Linked DNA regions of Homo sapiens. The protein of the gene in region 2 interacts with the protein of the main gene of each other region in a biochemical or structural test. Each region holds a gene or a part of one and is shown on either strand. Other genes may lie near its edges.

What was found.
Region 1: of the proteins of GRK5 (region 2) and SNCG, one has a biochemical effect on the other in vitro, tested with the Homo sapiens proteins (one study listed by BioGRID).

The regions. Positions count from the first base shown.
Region 1 is NC_000010.11:86,952,756-86,962,991, reverse strand, and holds the start of SNCG (gamma-synuclein), read right to left. Parts: upstream 4,295-10,236; coding exon 4,174-4,294; intron 3,360-4,173; coding exon 3,318-3,359; intron 3,044-3,317; coding exon of another isoform or gene 2,992-3,043; coding exon 2,864-2,991; intron 389-2,863; coding exon 317-388; intron 28-316; coding exon 7-27; 3' UTR 1-6. Other genes in the region: MMRN2 (multimerin-2 precursor), read left to right, coding at 5,451-5,614. UniProt on the Homo sapiens protein: Plays a role in neurofilament network integrity. May be involved in modulating axonal architecture during development and in the adult. In vitro, increases the susceptibility of neurofilament-H to calcium-dependent proteases.
Region 2 is NC_000010.11:119,208,885-119,218,395, reverse strand, and holds part of GRK5 (G protein-coupled receptor kinase 5), read right to left. Parts: intron 6,916-9,511; exon of another isoform or gene 5,692-6,915; intron 1-5,691. UniProt on the Homo sapiens protein: Serine/threonine kinase that phosphorylates preferentially the activated forms of a variety of G-protein-coupled receptors (GPCRs).

The DNA.
Region 1 (10,236 bases), about 32 Mb from region 2:
AGCCCTCTAGTCTCCCCCACTCTGGGCCTGGGAGAGAGAATGACCTGCACACCCAGCTCCAGGCCCCAGCCTTAATGGGCCACCCTGAGTGGGCTGAGAAAAGTTGTCTTCTGTGCCCCATGCCTGAGGGGTCATCCGTGGGGGGACCTCCCACTCAGGTTCAGGGTTAGCCCTGTACACAGTCCCTGTAGGGGCTGTGGAAGGTCAGGAGGCCCCTCTGGGCCCTGGGAGCCCAGGAGGGAAGCAGTGCGTCTGTGGGGGATGGGGTCCCTACCAAGGAACCCCCCATGGTGCACCCCAGGAGCCCAGCTCCTACCTCCTCTGCCACTTCCTCTTTCTCTTTGGATGCCTCACCCTCCTGTTGGGGGGCAGATGGCCTCAAGTCCTCCTGTAGGGGACAAAAGGGGGCATGAGACCATGTGGAGAATGCAGAGACCCCTAGCTGCCCTGCAACCAGGGCCTTGTCTACCCTGGCCTCAAGGAGGAGCAGAGGCCCCTCGTGGCCTTGTTGTACTTGGAGGGGCTGGAGGTATTGGGGGCGTGCAATTCAGACAATACCCGGGGCTCTGATGATGCCGAGGCCTTCCAGGGGCACCAAGTACCCTGGAGCCCAGCTTCACCCCTCAAGCTGGTCCCCAGTCTCTGGGAAGCCCCTAGTTGGGCTTCACTGATGAGGAACCTGGGTGGGGTAGGGTGGAGTGGGGGTTAGAGTGGGCAGAGGCCCCTGAAGCCCCAGGTCTGACCCCACCCTCAGTAGCCCTACAAGGAAGACTGATTGGGGTTCACATAGGGACTCTGAGGCCAGGGAGGCTTGGCATGCAGCTCAGGGCCTTCGAGCTCAAAGTGGTGGGGTGTGTTGGCATCAGATCAGGCTTGCTTCAGGCCCACTTCAGTCCACAGGAGCATGGCTCCCTCTCTTTGCCTCCTGGACAGGCTCTGGGCTCAGGCTGGTCAGGGCCAGCAGAGGTTACACAGTCCTCTCTCACTTCCCATCTTCTATCTCCTGCACTCCATGCCGGCCAGACACTTGCGTGAGATATCATGACAGCTGGGTGTGTAGGACCACACTGGTGATTGCCCTGCACTCTGGCCTCAGCACCTGCCTCTGGCGGGGGACGGGGGGGAGGCGGGGATACTGTCACCTCTGTGTTGCCCCAGGGCCATCCTGCCCCTTGGCGGAGTGGGGCATAAAAGGGCAGTGCTGTGCTGGCGGGAGTCGGCCAGGCTATCCAGGGGCAGGGCAGGTGGCCACCTGCTGAGTCCTGCTGCCCTAAGGCTGATGATGAGGCCAGGGGTATGAGTGGTCAGATAGTCCCTGCTGAGGCCTTTCACAGTTCACTGGGAGATGAGTCGTGACTGGTTTTGGGGTGTCACCAGGAAATGAGTCTCCCTCGAGGTGGCTCCAAGGGCTCACTAGCCCTGCTCCGGGATTCACAAGGAATGCCCGGGCACCCTCACCCCAGGGCCTCTTTTGCTGGGGGTGAGGAGGGAGGAGCCCCCTGGGGCTCTATGTGTTCTGCCTGGGACACATGATGATGATGATGATGATGGTCACCTTCCTCTGCTGGGTGCTCACATAGACCAGGAGAATTGCTTCATGGAGGTCATGGCCCTGCCTCATCACACAGCCCAGGGAGGCCGACACTCTCACCCCCATCTTGCAGATGAGAACACGGAGGCCCAGAGAGGTTCCTTTGCTTCTCAAGGTCATACGACGAGAAAGGGGAACTAGGAGAGGGAGCGGCTGCCAGCTCCAAGGACATGGAGACCCTGTGCTGGCCCTGGAAGCAGACACCTGGGCATCGCCCCAGAGCCAAGAGGAGTAGGGCAGCCCCCACCCTTCCACCCACCCACTCCTAACGCAGGGATTCTCAGTGCTCAGAGCCTCAGACTCCACCACCTAGGAGGCCTGGAGCAGGTAGGAGAGCTGGACACTGCTCCCCCGCCCCACCCCCAGGTAGGAATCCTAGCCCAGGCCACCACTTACACTGCCACAGGGTCTCTCAGAGTACAGGCTGCTCAGGGGAATTCCAAGCTCACATGAACTAGCCATGGGACCTTGGGCACATTAATCTCTCTGGGCCTTAGTTTCCACACCGTCTCATGGATTTTGTGTCTATTAAATGAACTAATAAGCGTACAATGCGTAAAGCAGAGCTTGCTGTGTCACAGGTGCTGGGACAGCTCACCCAGCCAACACCCGTCCCTGGGGTGCGCCCCACTGCTCCTGTGCTGTCTGCTATTGGGCCGCACACGCATGTGTACATTCACACGCATGTACACCCACACATTCTCACAAATGCACCCACATGCTCACTCAACACACGTGCACACACACACAAAGGCAGCTGCAGAGGGTAGGGTCAGAAGCAGCACTGCTTTCTTACCACTAGGGGACGCTACTTCCCTGAGGCTCCCAGCAGGAGGCAGCTGCCCCGCCCAGCCCAGGGAGGGAGGCTAGGCCCTGGGGGCGGGGCTGGTGCTACTCAGCCCCCGGCCTGGTGACCACTGCCCGGGAGGCTGCCTGTCACCGTGTGGGATCCTGTTTTCACTTATAAAATGGGGTGTCTCCTAAGTGCTGAGAGCCGTCCGGAAGATGTGGTTTTGAGCCTCACTTTCCTTGTCTATGAGATGGGCTCCCAAGTCCCCCGAAGGGGTGGTTGTGGTGATTCCAGACCCGAATGCAGGTCGAACAGCAAGCATGGACCCCACCCCATGCCGGCGCTCAGTGGGTACTGAAACTGAAGCCAGCCGCAGCCCCCCGTGTTGTTTCCTGGGGTGTGGAGTGGAGTGATGCCGCCTCCGCCCAGCAGCCTTTCTGGGCCCAGGAGAGGACTGGGCAGGTCTGAGGGCCGGGGCTCACCTTGCGCACCACCCCGGAGGTGACCGCGATGTTCTCCGCCTCCTCCACGGTCTTGGTGGCCACAGTGTTGACGCTGCTCACCACAGCCTCGCTCACGGCGTTGGCCTGCTCCTTGGTCTTCTCGGCCACTATGGGAGGACACTGGCTGGCCTCCACCCCAGCCCCAGCCCCAAGGCAGGCCTGCTGGAGTCAGGCTCGCAGCCCCTTCCCAGGAGCTCAGAGCCCTGGCCCTGCTGGGACCCTCCCCTGCTCCCTCTGACTCCAGGGCACCTCTGATGCTGGTGGGGGTAAGGAGACGCCCACCCTAGTTTAGCCTCATGGTCTGCAGGGGTCTGTAGGGCTTGGGACCCCAGTTGGGGGTAAGGCAGGACTCTAGGTTTGAGCCCCAGCACTAGGATGCAGGAGCCCCAGGGGTCCTATCCCCCATGTGTCCCCTGGCCCTGGGGCTTCTCACCTGAGGTCACGCTCTGTACAACATTCTCCTTGGTCTTGGCTCCTGGGGAGGAAATGGAGCTGTCAGCCCAGACCTCCCTCGAGGTGTTGGGGGCGGTCAGGACAAACACAACAGAACAGCTGGACAAACTGTGGGGTCGGTGGGGGGGTAAGGATGGTGTCTGGGGGCCGGCGGCCCCTTCAGAGGGCCTCTTCCTGCTGTGTCTGGAAGAAGTGGATGGATGGGAAGGGGACAGGACAGAATGTGGGGGACAAGAGAGAGCAGGCCTGAGGTAGGGACACTGGCTAGACCCAGGGTCCAGCCCCTGCCCGGGTGTGGCCGGGCCTCAGAAGCAGCAACAGGACAGGATGGGCCAGAGCTGAGTCATTGGCTTGACCTCCCCTTCCTCCTCTGGAGAGTGCCAGGAGAGGATGCGGGGGAGGGAACACTGAGCCTAGGTTTCATCCCCCAGCCTGCCCCTTCTCTCTGGGGAGGGAGGGGATCCGTGACCTGGCTGTAGCCGCTCCCGTGTGGAGAGGGTGGGGGCCACCTGAGCACAGGCTGCTCATGGCTTCAGGGGCTCCAGGCTCAGGGGAGGCTGGTATGCTTGGGAATGTGTGTGTGCGTGCACAGACAGGTAGCCAGCCCTGTCTGCGGTCTCTGACACCCAGAGGCCCCGAGGAGGCCAAAGACAAACACACATAGGTGTGCACAGGGCATTGTGGGTGCTCCAGGGTCTGGAGACCCCACCTTGATAGCCAGGGCCTCGCCCCCTCCCAAAATGCCTCCCTGGGGCTGGGGAGTAAGGTCTGGCGAAGGTAACTGGGCACTCACCCTTTGGCCACCACACTGTCCCACCCTGCCATGCCCCACTTACCCACATACATGACCCCCTCCTTGGTCTTCTCAGCTGCTTCCGTCACCCCCTGCTTGGTCTTTTCCACCGCACCCACCACGCCCTCCTTGGCGATGGAGAAGCCCTTCTTGAAGACATCCATGGTGGGTGTGCAGGGTTGTGCTGCTGCAGGCAGGACGGAGCTGGATCTCCCTGCGAGCTGCGGGCTTGAGCTGGCTCGAGTGCTGCCGCAGCGGCTGTCCCCGATGCCTCCTATTGACGCCGATGAAATATTGATGCGGAGGCCAGCTGGAGCCCAGCCAGCCCTGCGTGCAGTGGGGGCGGGGAGGGAGGGAGGGAGGGAAGGAGGTTCAGCCTCACCTTCCTCCAGGATAGGAAGGCAGAGACCAGGCTCCCTGGGCTCCTGCTGGCTCAGCCCAGCTCTCCTGCCCCGTGCCCTCCATGGGCTGGAGGGGGCTGGCCACCTCCCAACCTGTCCCTCATTCATTTACTGCCCTGCCCACCCATGGGGGCAGCCCTGGCTGGGTGCTCTTGGCCCCAGGGGTGCTGTGTCTATGCTGCACCTGGACAGACAGGCACAGAGAGGGGAGGCGCCTTGGCCATTGTCCCCAGCTTCCTAGGTAGGGGTCAGGGCCACATAGGCCTGTTAGGTGAGAGCAGCCAACCTCCCGCGGCCTGGGCTGTGCAGCTACCCACCAGCATCCTGGATGCCGCTGGACCCTGGGCTGCCATGAAACCGGTTGGAGGATCTGAGGTGGGTGGGGGTGGGGAAATGAAGGACTTCCTCATGCCTTGGCCTCTGGCTGCATGCTGTGTGACCCCAGAATAGTCCCTTCCCTTCTTTGAGCCGCCCAGTGCTGAAGGTGCTGAGGAGGCATGAATTGCCCCCCATTTCCTGGCCAGCAGTGTGGATGGGCAGCAGGTCCCCTGAGATGGACCTGACCACTTCCTGTGGCCCCACCTCGAAGTCCACGCTCTTTTCATGGCTCCCAGGGAGCAGGTTCCCATAAGGATGCATTTGGTGGGGCCACCCCATGTCTACCACATTCCCAGAGTCCCTGAGCCAAGTCCTCAGGGACAGGAACTGGCTTGTGTGGTTGGCGGCCCCTGTGGGGCCAGCCAGGGTAGTTGGGGGGCAGGACAAGACCCACCGGGTAGGCCGGCCCAGGCCACTTCCTCTCTTTGTTGTCCTCGTATTTTCTTTTCCTCCTGAGATTTAACTTGAAGACAACGTCACTAGCAGTTTCTGGAGCTACTTGCCAAGGCTGAGTGTGAGCTGAGCCTGCCCCACCACCAAGATGATCCTGAGCTTGCTGTTCAGCCTTGGGGGCCCCCTGGGCTGGGGGCTGCTGGGGGCATGGGCCCAGGCTTCCAGTACTAGCCTCTCTGATCTGCAGAGCTCCAGGACACCTGGGGTCTGGAAGGCAGAGGCTGAGGACACCGGCAAGGACCCCGTAGGACGGTAAGAGGGCCTGGACCTTGGCAGAGGTCATGGAGTAGGATCTGAGTCCCAGCTCAGCTAGAGCAGAGCCTCTCTAGACCTCACTGGGGTCCCATCTGTGAAATGGGCTAATAGTATCTATCTCTGGGCCATCTGTGAGGCTGAAAAAGTAGTCTGGACTGGGTGTTTCAGGATCCACCTAAGAATTGCAGGGAGTTCCCTGTCGGAGCCATGGCAGGGAATGGGGCTTGGGGGGCTGGCAGGGAGGCACAGCTCCTACCATCAATCACCCAGCATGGGGCACTGGGGGACTGTGGCTGAAGCCATTGCCAGCTGGCCTGGCTATGCCTCCTGTTCTTCCAAAGAAATCAATTCTGAAAGCTGAGACCCAGCAAGGCTGCCCTGAGATTTTGATCTGAGTTCCCTGGGGACCTGACTCTGACTGCCCAGCAGTGAGCAGAGACGGCCCCCTGCTCTCCAGAGCACAGTCCAGGGCGCTCTGCCTCAGCGACCCAGCAAGTGGGCAGGATGGTCTTGCAACTGGACCCAGAACATAGCTTTCCAACATTCTATGTGTACAGAGCCAGGGCCCATCCTGCTGATGAGGTGTTGGGCCTGTAAGTCCCCCCTCATCTCCAACTGCCCCTCAGTCAGAGCAGCAGGTGCTGTTTACGGGGCCCCCAGTCTCAGGGCCAGGCACCTTGCCACGTGTATCTCAGTTCATCCCTCCAACAGCCCCACTTACAGAGGAGGAGCCTGAGGCTCAGAGAGGCTGAGGGGCTTGCCCAAGGCCACACAGCTAAGGAGCAGGATCTGAGTTTGACTTCAGAGCTCATAGTGAACTCTCTGCAGCACTTGGAGCCAGCCCCAGCCCCCAGATGCTCCTACCTCCACCCTCCTGCCCCCACACACCAGACCTGTTTGGCTAAGGGCATCTACATGGATTTAGGGAGTGAGGGGGGGGCCAACTTACACTTCTGTGCGGTGTATGAGAGCCACCATCGCAGAGCGGACCTGCCTGGGATAGGTCTCATTTGGCTTCTGAGTTGCAGGTTTGTTGGGTGCTTTCCTGAAAACAGATTTGACCAGGGAGGGGCAAGAGGCCCCTTAGTGAGGGTCTGGTGGCAGTGGCGTGGGGAACAGTGGCTGAGCAGTTGGCCATGGAGAAACCTCATTCCCGCCTGCCCCCAACTCTGCTCAGGGCTGGGAGGTGCAGGTGATTCTCGGTGGTGGGGCGGCAAGGGGAGCAGGGGGCGGGGGAGGGGCGGGCTGGATCCAGCCACTCCGCTCTGATTTCAGGACCAAGGAAGCTCCACGCCTTAGTCTCAGGCCACCTTCCGCCTTTTGATGAAAGGGAGGATGAGAGGACCCGGTGGACGGGAGGGAGGAGGGAGCTGCTCCTCTTCCTCCCCACCCCCTTGGTTGTGGGAGAGACATTGCTCCCTTAGCCCCAAGGAGTGAGGGTTTGGGAACTGCTGATGGGCAGCCCTGCAGGGGCCCCGCAGTCCTTCTCTGGGGTTCTGAGTGGGAGGGTGCATGTACCTGGCCCAGGAATGCCCAGGTGTCCCAAGCCTGGAAGCCCCCTGCCTGCAGGGCTCTCCTTCCCACATCCAGAAGCTGCAGTCTCCACAGGGCAAGTCCATGCTCTCTCACCAAACCCGGATGGGCTGGTGAGAAAGGAAGGAAACGCGCGGCTTCCTGGGCTGATTACTTCCCTTGCTCCTGTGACCAGGGAGGTGGAAGCGTGCTCCAGACCCTGTCCCTGCAGCATGGGAAGGGGAGGCAGACTGGGTTCTGCTAGCAGGGGTGGTGACACCAACACCATCACAAGGAGGCTCGGCTGCCAGGGCCAGGCATTCTGCCCTGCCTTTGCCACTTACATCTGTTTCCAGAGCCCCAGGGCTAGGCTGGGCCCAGGATGCAGGCCCCAATAAGACCCTTTGCAAGGAGAAGCTTGAATAGAACCACTACGTCCTCAGACTTCCCTGAGGTGGAGAAGCGAAGGGGTTAACTGCTTCTTAGGTTGCCAGGGACCCCGAGGGGCCCAGCCCAGGGAGCCAGCAGCCTGAGCATTAGGACTCCGGGAGGAAGAGGCTGTTTCTGTGCCCTGGCTTGGGGATGTCTAGAATGTGGGTGCCTCAGACCCAGGATTTGCTGTCCCAGTGGAACTCAGTCTGCGGTAGGGACCGTGCTGAGCCCCAGGCAAGGTGTCCCATCTATCACATTGCTATGATAGCTTGGAGGGGTGGGGACGCCTCCCAGGGCCACAGAGCTCCTAAGTGACAGTGAGAGCCCAGGCCCACCCAGGCTGTCCTGTCCCCCCAAGAGGGTGGCCGTGTAGGGGATGCTGCTGCCAGCAGGCTGGTTGGCCCCAGTCACCAGCCTCAGGCTTCTCCTGACCCTTACACAAAGAGCACTGAGATTTTCCCAGCTGGGAGCTTGTGGCCCAGAGGAGTCCAGCATATGACTGGAGGTCACACAGGAGCAGGGCAGAGCACAGGCCGCCTTCTCTGGGCCACGATGCACCTTTTGCACTTGTTCCTCCCCCATCCTCACCCCCACCCCCGACCCCTGCCGGGCACAGAGCCCTTGGTATGAACAGGGAAGAACCCCCACTGGCCAGAGCTGAAGCTTCCAGAACCACGCTCAGGGGTTCTTAGCTCTGGGCTGATCCCTGAGAGCCTCAGGCTTCTCTGCCAAGGCCCTTTTCTGACTCAAGGACAAAATCCTGTGAGTTTCTCCCCTGGAATGGTCAAGTTAATGGCTGGCTTCAGGGCCTCAGAAAACAAGGCTGCTGAGAACACGCCTTCCTTCCCAAGGAAGACTTGAGGGCCCCTGGGAGGGCGTTTCCTGGCTGGGGAAGGGAAGGCACTCCACACAATCTGCATAATGGATGCGCCCTCCCCCTCCCACAGGCTCCCTCTCCCTTCCCCCCACACCAGCTCTGATCTGTGTGCCGCAGAGGCACAGCTTCTTCGCATTTCGATGATGGGGGAAGGGCCTTGCCCAAGGTCACTGTGGGTTCAGGGAGGAGGAGGAGAGGAGAACGCAGGCCGCCCAGCTTCCATTTAAAGCTCCAAAGGAGTCCACGTACCCTCCTATCTGGGTGGAGCAGCAGGTTGGGGCCACAGCAGACCAAGGGCAGCTCCAAACCAGGCCAGAGGAGCCCCACATCCACTCTGGGTTGGCCACTGGGAGATGAGGGCACCCAGCAGGACTCCCCAAGGGAGGGCACAAAGATGAAGCCAGCCTGAGACGGAGGGGCAGAGGGAAAAATGGGCACTTCAGCAAGTTGGGCCGGGGGCATGGGCATCAAGGGCCAGCCAGAAGCTGCCAAGAGCTGGAGGAAGCCAAAGCAAAGGTCAGGAATGTTCCCAGGGTTCTGGGCCAGCAGCCTGTACTGTGCCAAGGGAGGGCCTGCCCAGGGTGGGGAGCATGGGCAGAGAGAATAGCAGTGCTGAAGCCCAGGGTCTGGGCAGGTCAGCGGAGAAAGTTCCTGGGCAGGAAGGGTGGGCGGCATAGTTTCCACTTCCAGGAGCTTGAGGTGGAAAGTCCCAGTCACTCCTGGCAGGCTGGACCAGGCCAGGCGTGCCTGGGGCACACGCCTTCCAGGCCCTCTGCAGTAGGTCAGAGGTTTGCAAGGAATGGAAGTTTGTTTAGAGAGAGTTTCTCAGCCCTGGCATACTGACATTTTGGACTAGATAATTCCTTGTGGTGGGGTGTGGAGATGTCCTATGCATTGTAGGGTATTTGGCAGCATCTTTGGGCCCCACCCATGAGATACCTAGTCATGAGTAGCACCCACCACCCAGTCGTGACAATGCACCTGGGGAAAGTACCCTCTCCTCCCATTGAGAACCACTGGTCTAAGAGAGATTTTTCCCTAGGGCTGAGCTGTTGCGGGAAGTCAGGGACCCTGAACGGAGGGACAGGCTGGAGCCGCGGCAGAGGAACATAAATTGTGAAGATTTCATTTTAATATGGGCATATATCAGTTCCCAAAATTAATACTCTTATAATTTCTTACACCTGTCTTTACTGCAATCTCTGAACATAAATTGTGAAGATTTCATTTTAATATGGACATTTATCACTTCCCTAATAATACTCATAATTTCTTATGCCTGTCTTGCTTTAATCTCTTAATCCTGTTATCTTCATAAGCTGAGGATGTACATCACCTCAGGACCCTGTGATTTTGCGTTAACTGTACAAATTGATTGTAAAACGTGTGTTTTAATAATATGATATCAGTGCACCTTGAAAATGAACAGAATAACAGCGATTTTAGGGAACAAGGGAAGACAACCATAAGGTCTAACTGCCTGCGGGGTCGGGCAAAAGGAGCCATATTTTTCTTCTTGCAGAGAGCCTATAAACGGATATGCAAGTAGGAGAGATATCGCTAAATTCTTTTCCTAGCAAGGAATATAATATTAAGACCCTAGGAAAAGAATTACATTCCTGCGGGGAGGTCTATAAACGGCCGCTCTGGGAGTGTCTGTCCTATGCGGTTGTGATAAGGACTGAGATATGCCCTGGTCTCCTGCAGTACCCTCAGGCTTACCAGGATTGAGAAACCCCAGCCCTGGTAAATTTGAGATCAAACTGGTTCTCTGCTCTCAAACCCTGTTTTCTGTTAA
Region 2 (9,511 bases):
GACTTGCAGAGCAATTACATTGGCTGGGTTCTCTCCATCCAGCAGTTGGGTAATTCTATCTCCTACCCCCTCCCCTTCCCTTCCTGGAGTGGGTAAGTTTAGAGCTACACCTTCTCTGCAGGAGCAGATCAAAAGCATGGCTTCCTGTACCCTCATCATCAGGGAGCGACACCAGGCTGCCTTCCCACCAGGATCTCAAGTCTGACTGTGGACCCCCAAGGAAGTGCATGGCTCTTATACACTCCCTTGCCTCACAAAGCCCCCTGAAAAGCAGAGTTGCAACATTAACGCAACACACACACACACACACACACACACACAAACGGGTTGACATGGTTTCTAAATGCAAACACTCAAGGTTACCACTGAAAAATGGCAAGGGGTCATCCGGAGAGAGCTTTTCTGGGGGAAAAGGCCACTTCATACCCTCTCTTTGGTGAGGGGGTGGGGATGCCCTGCAATCTGCAAGAAAAACCCTCCTCGCCTCCCCCTCTCTAACCCCCTACTTGGGTAGTAAGTAAAGAGAGCTGCAGAAACCTGAGCCTGCACATAAGGTACCACTGTCAGGCAGAGGTAACTGAGGGCGAGAACCTCCTAAGGAGCAGTAAGCGGCCAGGGAAGCAGGGTGCAGGGCAGATGGGAGCTATGTGTGGTGAGCCAGCAGGAACTGGCATGCCCGCTGCCCACCTCTTGCCTCTGCCAAGGAAAGGAGGTGGTGCTGCTGCCAATGATGTGGCCCACACCTAAACTCCCATGACTGTCCCCACCACCACCACCCATGGGGCTTCACATCCAGTCCCTTGGGGGCAATTCGTTGGCCACTAGCCATGCTGAGGGGAAAAATAACGCAAGAGGCTGGCCTCGCTTGTCCGATGTGTTGGTAGGAGGGGCCCAGGCAGCGAGAGAGTACAGGTAATGGGCCTCCACAGGCGATCATACCACATACGTACACATGTGCTTATGTGTGTACAGGCACTTATGTATGGCATGTAGGCATCCTGCCTTGTCCTCAAACACAGATTCAGTTGTATTGATACACAGTTCTACTTTTAAAATGGAAACATCTACTTTGAGGATTCACCTATCAGTCATTTACAACCTAGTAGGAATTAATTTACCCAACTGCTCTCAAACTGGCCCTCAGCTGAAATCACGGTCTGAGACAGAAATTATATTCCCAATTTGCCCCTTTTCCCAGGGAATCTGACAAAGACACTCTTTCTCTTCCACAATTACAACCTCATGGGTATTTACACTTAAAAACCCTACCATCTCGAGAAGAGTTTGTTGTTTTGGCATATATTATGAGAGGAAGGAAGAAAGATTTATTTTGGAACATAAAAGCACTTTGGAGGATAGGGGAGATCCACTTGCAATTGCTCCCCAAAAGTCCACAGTTCAAGTGACCTTGAACAAGTGACTCCCTTTTTTTATTTTTATGTTTTTTTTTAAATTATTATTTTACCTTTTAGACGGAGTTTCGCTGTTACCCAGGCTGGAGTGCAGTGGCACTCCCAGGTTCAAACAATTCTCCTGCCTCAGTCTCCCAAGTAGCTGGGATTATTATAGGCACCCACCACCACATCCAGGTAATTTTGTATTTTTAGTAGAGATGGGTTTTCACCACGGTGGTCAGGCTGATCTTGAACTCCTGACCGCAAGTGATCCACACACCTTGGCCTCCCAAAGTGCTGGGATTACAGGCGTGAGCCACCACGCCTGGCCATTTTTATTTATTTTTTATTTTTTGTAGAGATAGGGGTCTTGCTATGCTGCCCACGCTGGTCTTGAACTCCTGGCCTCAAGCAATCCTCCTGCCTCAGCCTCCCAAAATGCTGGGATTACAGGCGTGAGCCACTGCACCCGGCCCTGACTCCCTTTCTTTCATCTCAGTTTCCCCATCCGTTAAACCAAGGGTAACCTCTATGCCGGAAACAGAGGACAGGGCAGCAGATCAGCTGAGAAGGCTCAGGGAAGCCGAGGCACCAGTGGCCCTGTGGCCTCTGCCACTTCAGGACAGAGGCATGTTCTTATCTGTTTATCTCAGCTTATCTGTTTACCCTTGCTTTCTGCACAGGCCCCAGAAGCTGTCCTTGGGGTTCATTTCATCATTACCTTTTTAAAAAAATTTTTGATATTCCACAGATTACAAGTTCTTAGAAACACAGTAGGCCCTATCAAAACTGGCCTAGTTTAGGAGGATGTCACCAGTTGACTCTGGTACGTCAGATAGACTCCCTTGCTTCGGACACCAGGGAACAAGCAATGAACTGTTTTATTGTTTCAAACACTTTCTTTCTAAGTGTGCTCTGAGTTATTGTTAAAATGTTTCAAATCTCACAAGAAACAGTTTTTAAGGAGAAAACCATTTTCAAGTGGATACAAGAACAGTGAGTTTCTTTGGCATCTTTAAGTATACCTTCTTCCTGATGTCTTCCCAGCTCAGAAAAAATGAAAACCCTTAAAATGGTTTTGCCTGTCTTCACCCCCATTTTAGATCACCTGCCTGTGGAGGTTTCTTTCTATTCTTTCTGTAGATCTGCCGCACTTATGCAACTTAATTGTTTTTTTAAATAAAATGACTGCTTTAAAATAGCCCCACATTAAGAATTTCAAGAAGGAACATGGGGCTCTGTATGTATCTATATCATGCACTTAATTTGAATCAGGAAAGTCAGTTGCTCAATTTAGGCAAATTTCCCAACAAGATATTGAAAAAGGGGGTGGGGGAGGATATGGTAGCTTAACCCCCTCCACCCCCGCCACCATCCATGATTGTCCCTGACCTGAATTTCCTCTTAGGTGAGTCAGTCCCAACTCCCAACCCCTGCCTTCACCCCTCCTCCATGGTGCAGCCCCCTCCCCTTCCTCAGTCTCTTCCTCACTCTCCGCACCCCCTTCCCTATTTTCTCCTTCTCCTACCCATTTCCCCCTCTCATCTCTCCTTCTCCCCCTCCTCCACACTGTCTCTCTCCCCAACTCCCTGCCTCCCTCTGCTTCTTTTAATTTTCCCTAATTTTTCATGTCAGAAGTCATGGGGTTATCACACTCACTAAATGCACAGAATCCTCTAGAGAAGCTCTGTCCCGATGAGCTTTCTGCAATGATGGGAATGTTCTATATGCATGGCCCAATACAATGGCCACTAGCCACACATGGCTACTGAGCACTAGACATGTGGTTTGCATGCTTCAGGAACATAATTCCTAACTTTAATTAATTTAAGTATAAATAACAACATACAGCTAGTGGCTACTACGTTGAACAGAGCCCCTGAAGAGGAACAGGTACCTTTAATCTTTTCGGTCATTCCCTGTGACAGGCTATGTCAAAGGACATACCCAGGCCAATCCCAACAGAAAGCCAGAAAAGAATGCAGCCTCCACCGTCTTCACTCCAGAACTGCAGCCCGTCTACCCGCCCAGGCCTCTGCCCTGAACACCTGCTCTGCCTGGAAGGCGCCATGGCACACCAGTTTTCCTCTTGGATCTTGTCATTCCTCAACCAAAGGGTCTTCTTGCCATTGTTTTTAATGGTTTCCATTTCTAGGAACAGACCTTCATAAAAACAGTGTTGGCCGGGCGTGGTGGCTCACACCTGTAGTCCCAACATTTTGGGAGGCCAAGGTGGATGGATTGCTTGAGCCCAGGAGTTTAGAGACCAACCTGGGCAACAGGGCGAAACCCCATCTCTACAAAAAATACAAAAATTAGCCAGGCATGTTGGCACGAGCCTATAGTCCCAGCTACTCAGGAGGCTGAGGTGGGAGGATCACTTGAGCCCAGGAGGTCGAAGTTGCAGTGAGCTGAGATGGCACCACTGCACTACAGACTGGGTGACAGCAAGACCCTGTCTCAAAAAACAAAACAAAACAAAAACCCCTCAGTGCCCCAGAAAATTAGCAGTTGTCTTCCAGATTCAGGTCTATCCCTCAAGTATAACCTTTTAATTATGCTTAAATCACATACTGGTCCCTCAGGCCATTGTCCAAATTCTAGGCACAGTAGAGTCAATGCAGTCTACACAGCTAAGGAGGTCACACCCCAGTCAGCCTCAGCTCTTCGGGGAAAAAAATCCAGTTCTGTTCACACCTAGTTGATCAGTTAAAAAACATCAAAAGAGACTGAGTGCAGTGGCTCATGCCTGTAATCCCAGCACTTTGAGAGGCCAAGGCAGGCAGATCACCTGAGGCCAGGAGTTTGAGACCAGCCTGGCCAACATGGCGAAACCCCGCCTCTACTAAAAATACAAAAATTAGCCAGGCTTGATGGTGGGCGCCTGTAATCCCAGCTACTCAGGAGGCTGAGGCAGGAGAATCGCTTGAACCTGGGAGGCAGAGGTTGCAGTGAGCCCAGACTGCGCCACTGCAGTCTAGCCTGCGCGACAGAGCAGACTCTGTCTCAAAACAAAACAAAAAACAAACAAAAAAACATGTAAAAAGAGAACGGCAGTGCCCAATTGCATCTTTTCAGTCATTTCACATTGTATTATCTGAGGCTGACACCCGAATGTCACCTCCGCACTGGGTCCTTCAACAACCAAATGCTGAACAAATAAATTTTACTCTTGTAAGATTTTCAGAAGCCTATTCAAGAATGGTTTCCTCAAAATGAGAAGCAGGGGTGGGGGAAGGGTCCAGTCAGGAAGTAAGGACTTTCTCTTTTAAAAGCAGCACAGTTTTCACAAAATGAAATGCTTCTTCCAGTTTTTGGATGGTAATAAAAGGAATGACATTATCTCTGCCCCCCCAAAATACATCTTTTCAATATTTAGAATATTTTTAAATAAAAATTTTCACTGAAATATAACAGGATATGTTTTAAAGTGGAAATCAACCCTATTATTTAAGGCCATAATACATTTTAATTTTTTATTTTTCTTTTTTGAAACAGAGTCTTACTCTGTCACCCAGTCCGGAGTACGGTGGTGCAATACTGGCTCACTGCAATCTCCACCTCCCAGGTTCAAGTGATTCTCCTGCCTCAGCTTTCCGAGTAGCTGGGATTACATGCGGGCACCACCACACCCCGCTGATTTTTGTATTTTTAGTAGAGACAGGATTTCACCATGTTGGCCAGGCTGATCTCAATCTCCTGACCTCAGGTGATCCGCCTGCCTCGGCCTCCCAAAGTGCTGGGATTACAGACATGAGCCACCATGCCCAGACCATTTTAGTCATTTAAAATCATGCCTTCATCCCCTTGTCTTCAATATTCTCTTCTATTCCATTCATTTATTTATTTATTTTTAGAGACAGGGTCTTGTGTGTTGCCCAGGCTGGAGGGCAGTGGCTATGCACAGATGCAGTCCCACTGCTGATCAGCATGGAGTTTTTACCTGTTCTGTTTCCCACCAAGCCAGTTCACCCCTCCTTGGGCAACTTGGTGGTCCCCACTCCCGAAAGGTCACCATATTGATGCCGAGCTTACTGCAGATACCCAATAGGCATAGTTCGCTCCAGACCAGTACTCCTGGGCTCAAATGATCTTCCTCAGCCTCCAGAGTAGCTGGGACCACAGGCTGTGCCACCGCACTCGGCTCCACCATTCTATTTTGATGTGAGAAATGGGTGCTGAGGGCTGTATGATTGAGGAAATTCCTAATTATCTTCTCAATGTGTCACCTGTTGGTAGTCACTTTCTGTTTTCTCAAGTTTCACCTCTGAGTTGCATGACCTATGACAATAATGCCTTTTGGTAACCAGAAGACTTTTTTATTTCAAAAATGTCTAGACATTATAATGCTTTATCTTGCACTCCAAACATATTGGCAACAAATATTAACTTTGAATATTGCCCACAGTCCTGGATAGTTTTATTTAAAACATCCCAGATATGGATTGAATAGCCCTTGGTAAAGGTGAATTTGGTTAAACATTGAGCCCGCTCCTGAAATTCACTTGGGCATTCTGGAAGTCTTCAGCCCAGATCCAAAGGGTATCATTTAGCAAGCCACTATAAGAGTTATAGCTTCTGAAGACATAATTTAAACAAGGATTAGTTTGGGCACTGGAAGAGTCAAGCACTTTGGAGTTTAGAATCTGACAAGCAGCAGCTAAGCTACTGAAAGATGAGAGCCTTGTGGGCATTTATCTGATGGTTTTTCAAACAGGCAGCCAGATTAACTACAATCATCGTTTGAAATCTTTAAGAAAGCAAAAGGCCTTCTGAAAACATTGCTTTTGGTTTCTCTACCTCCAAGTTGTCAGTACTGAAAAGGAAACTTTAAAAAAAAAAAAAGAAAGGCAGTTTGATTTAACGGCATTGTGTTTAACAGGCCAGGCTGCTTTTACACACACCGAGCTGCCTTAACCAGGATGAAAGCTGTCGCTTGGTAAGATTAACATTAAAATTGAAGGAGAAGCTTCAGGGTGGAGTACGTATGCCTCCACGTATGCCTTCACATAGCCATAAGAGGGCTTTGAGCTTCAGAGATGTTCCAACGTTCTAATAACCTAATTCACCATGTTTTGGTTTTATCACCATGAATTAGGGGTGCAAGGGAAAGAGGTCCAGGGCTTTCAGCCGTGCTGTGGAATGTTAAGTCTGTCCACGCCATAGCCTGCCCCACGCAGAGCTGGATGCTGGCTCACTCCTTCTTCCTGCCCTCCCTAACCTCTTCCAGGCCCCGAGGTGCTAATCTTGATGATCAGGAAGATCCAGCCAAGTCACAGAGTTACCTGAAAAAACGGTTCCTGTGTATTCTAATGTTTGGCAATTGTGACAAATGACAAAGTTGTTCCAGTCCTAACTTCTCAATTCCTGTGCTTGCTAGGGCCTCAGGAAAATGTGATCAATATTCCTTCAGGTATCTTTTTTGATCAGATATGGCTACTGCTGGCCTGTGAAGAAAGGAAAAGCGGGGCCTTGCAAAATTTTTTCTCACCACTGTTCACTCAGAAGAAAGGCAACAGATCTAGAAGATGAGAAAAACACAAAAACCTTTACTGCAACAATAAAACCAAAAAGAAACACACAAAAGGCACTCAGCAAACTCTCCTTCTCATTATTATTTCAACATTAGGTCGCCTGCCAATTTTCTGAGATTCTGAAATGTAAATAAATAGATAGAGTTAGTCTGGGCCTCTTTTTCATGAAATGCTTAATCACTTAGCTCATTCCCATAAATTGCCATGAATTCAGTCTCAACTTCTTTCTTTTTTTCCTTAAGCACTTTTTAGGAGAGCAATCTAAAGTTCCTAAGAGTGATCGAGTTGATGTTTTCTCATGAGACCCAGGACAAATAAACAGGCCCCAAAATACATTTCCGTGGTTCAAAATCTTGAACCCATACCTCTACCTTTTCTTATTTTAAAATAATTATCACAAGTGTTCATGAAGCTTGCTTGCTATATTTTCTAATTACTAACAATCCATCATTTTACTCTAATCCACTTACAGGCTTTCTATTTTATTGCTACATTAATGCTTTCCACTTTATATTATGTCTTATTACGGTAAGACTTTGAAGATACAGTGAATTTAGGAGCCATCTGTCTTTAATGCAAAACAAAAAGAAAAGATAGGTCCCAGTGTTACCCACCAACATGGACAACTACAAATTATTTTACAGCATTTTCAAAGTGTGCCTGTCTTTCTTCAAGGTCTGTTTCTCTATTGTTTGGGACAAATGTGACTTTTACTTGAAAGCCAAATTTTAAATTGCTTACGGTGTATTTTGTTAAGTGAACTAAATTAAATTTCACATTTGCCAATTATATTTCTCATCTGTAACCACTGACAAGAATCTTTAAGAAGTGTTTTTAAACCTTTTAAACAACTCAGATTTTTTTAATATACTGTTTTATATTAGATATTTCACTAAACTGACTGAAGATTTCATTTCTGAATATTTAGATAATATGGTTATTTGGAGAACTACTAAGTTTAGTAAAATAAATTCAAATATATGAGAACTGAGAAGAGAAACATAAATTGCTTTAATTTCTAAAAGTGTCCACACTAATTAGGATATATGGGCTCAAGTCTCTAATAAAGGCCCAGCCAAAAGAAACTGGAAGCACTTAAAATCATGGCTTTCCTCTAGGCATAAGAGAGAAAGAAGGGGAGAGATGCAAATTGTAAATGAGGTTTCCATTAAATGATTAATTTTTCTTGTTCACGTGTCAGTCTCTCCCTGCTTCCGCAGGCCCTCTCCATTTCCAAGGCATCATCAAGAGCTATTTTCTCACCATGAGATGACGACCAAACTCTCACAGCAAAATTGAAAAAGCCTTTAAAAGGAAAAAAAAAAGTGAAAGGCACATTCTTGAGCACTTTCAATCACTGTAATTCTGCCCCAATGGGAGTCGGTCACTCCACACAAGCTTCCAGCCTGCAGCTCTCTTCTCCAAGGCTCTGGGAAAAAAACCCAATTTGTTGGCCTAACGAACAACAATATCAGACAGTAAATTCACGTTGGTGAAAAAATACTGGGGAGAACAATTTGGAGGGGGCGGGTGGAATTGATATCACTTTGCCCACTCTAAGCAAAGCATTATAAAAGAAGCAACCAAATGCTCAGGGAAGAAAAAAAGCATCTATCAGGCAAACAAATATCTACAGCAGCAAATGTCGGGGGCAGATTCCCTGGGCAACAGGAGGAACCAGCGAAACTTGCAAGGCTCCAGTACCATCAGACCCAGTGATTTCCCAAGAAATAATTTCAGAATGGAGCGAGAGTGAAAACTTTCCCAGCCCCCGAATCCTGAGATACACAACCGTGTCCCACCACTAGGTGGCCAGCTGCAAAGGCTGAAAGAGGGGCGGGGGAGGTGGAGGGCTGTTTTCTCTGCTTCCTCCCTTTCAGGACCATTCCCCAACCCAGAGGAGAGCCTACCAGCACCCACCTAGATCCTGTCCACTAAAAATGTCAGGTTAGGAAAAAAAAAAAAAAAAAAAAAAAAAAACCACACACACACACACAGCTCAGGCCTTAGAACCTGAAGTCACCAAGTAACAAGCCTCTCCTAAAAATTTATTCCCACCAAAGCTAAGCAATGGGAGGGAGACTAACCTGAATATTTTAAACTCTGCTGGGGTTTTCAAAGCACTGCCTCCCTTCGGGGCTTCTGAAATAAACCTTCTTGCCCACTGGCTGCTTTAGAGTGACAAGTGACGACGAAAGTAAGACACGAATGCCGGGTTGAGTTGCTGAAACGCTGCCCACGGAAGGCTATGCATCACCTACCCCCACAGTGTGTAGGGAGCCACAAGGTGATGGAACGGGCTGAATAAACACGAATCGTTTTATTGCTGGCCAGAAATTCTTCCCTTCATTCATCAAAGTAGGTGAATGAAAATATTAAGCAGGTAAGACATTTTCATGGGCTGCTCACCGAGTATCCTTCTAAACTCAAGCCCTTACTCAGTCTGCCTTCTACCTTGTATCAAATAAAGCGTTCTCCCGTGAAAGGGAAAAACCTCTTCCCCTTTTATGAAAAAGGTCGCACACTAGAGCTCAAATCTTGACCAGAAAAAAAAAAGGAAAATATGCGACATAAATTCCAGGT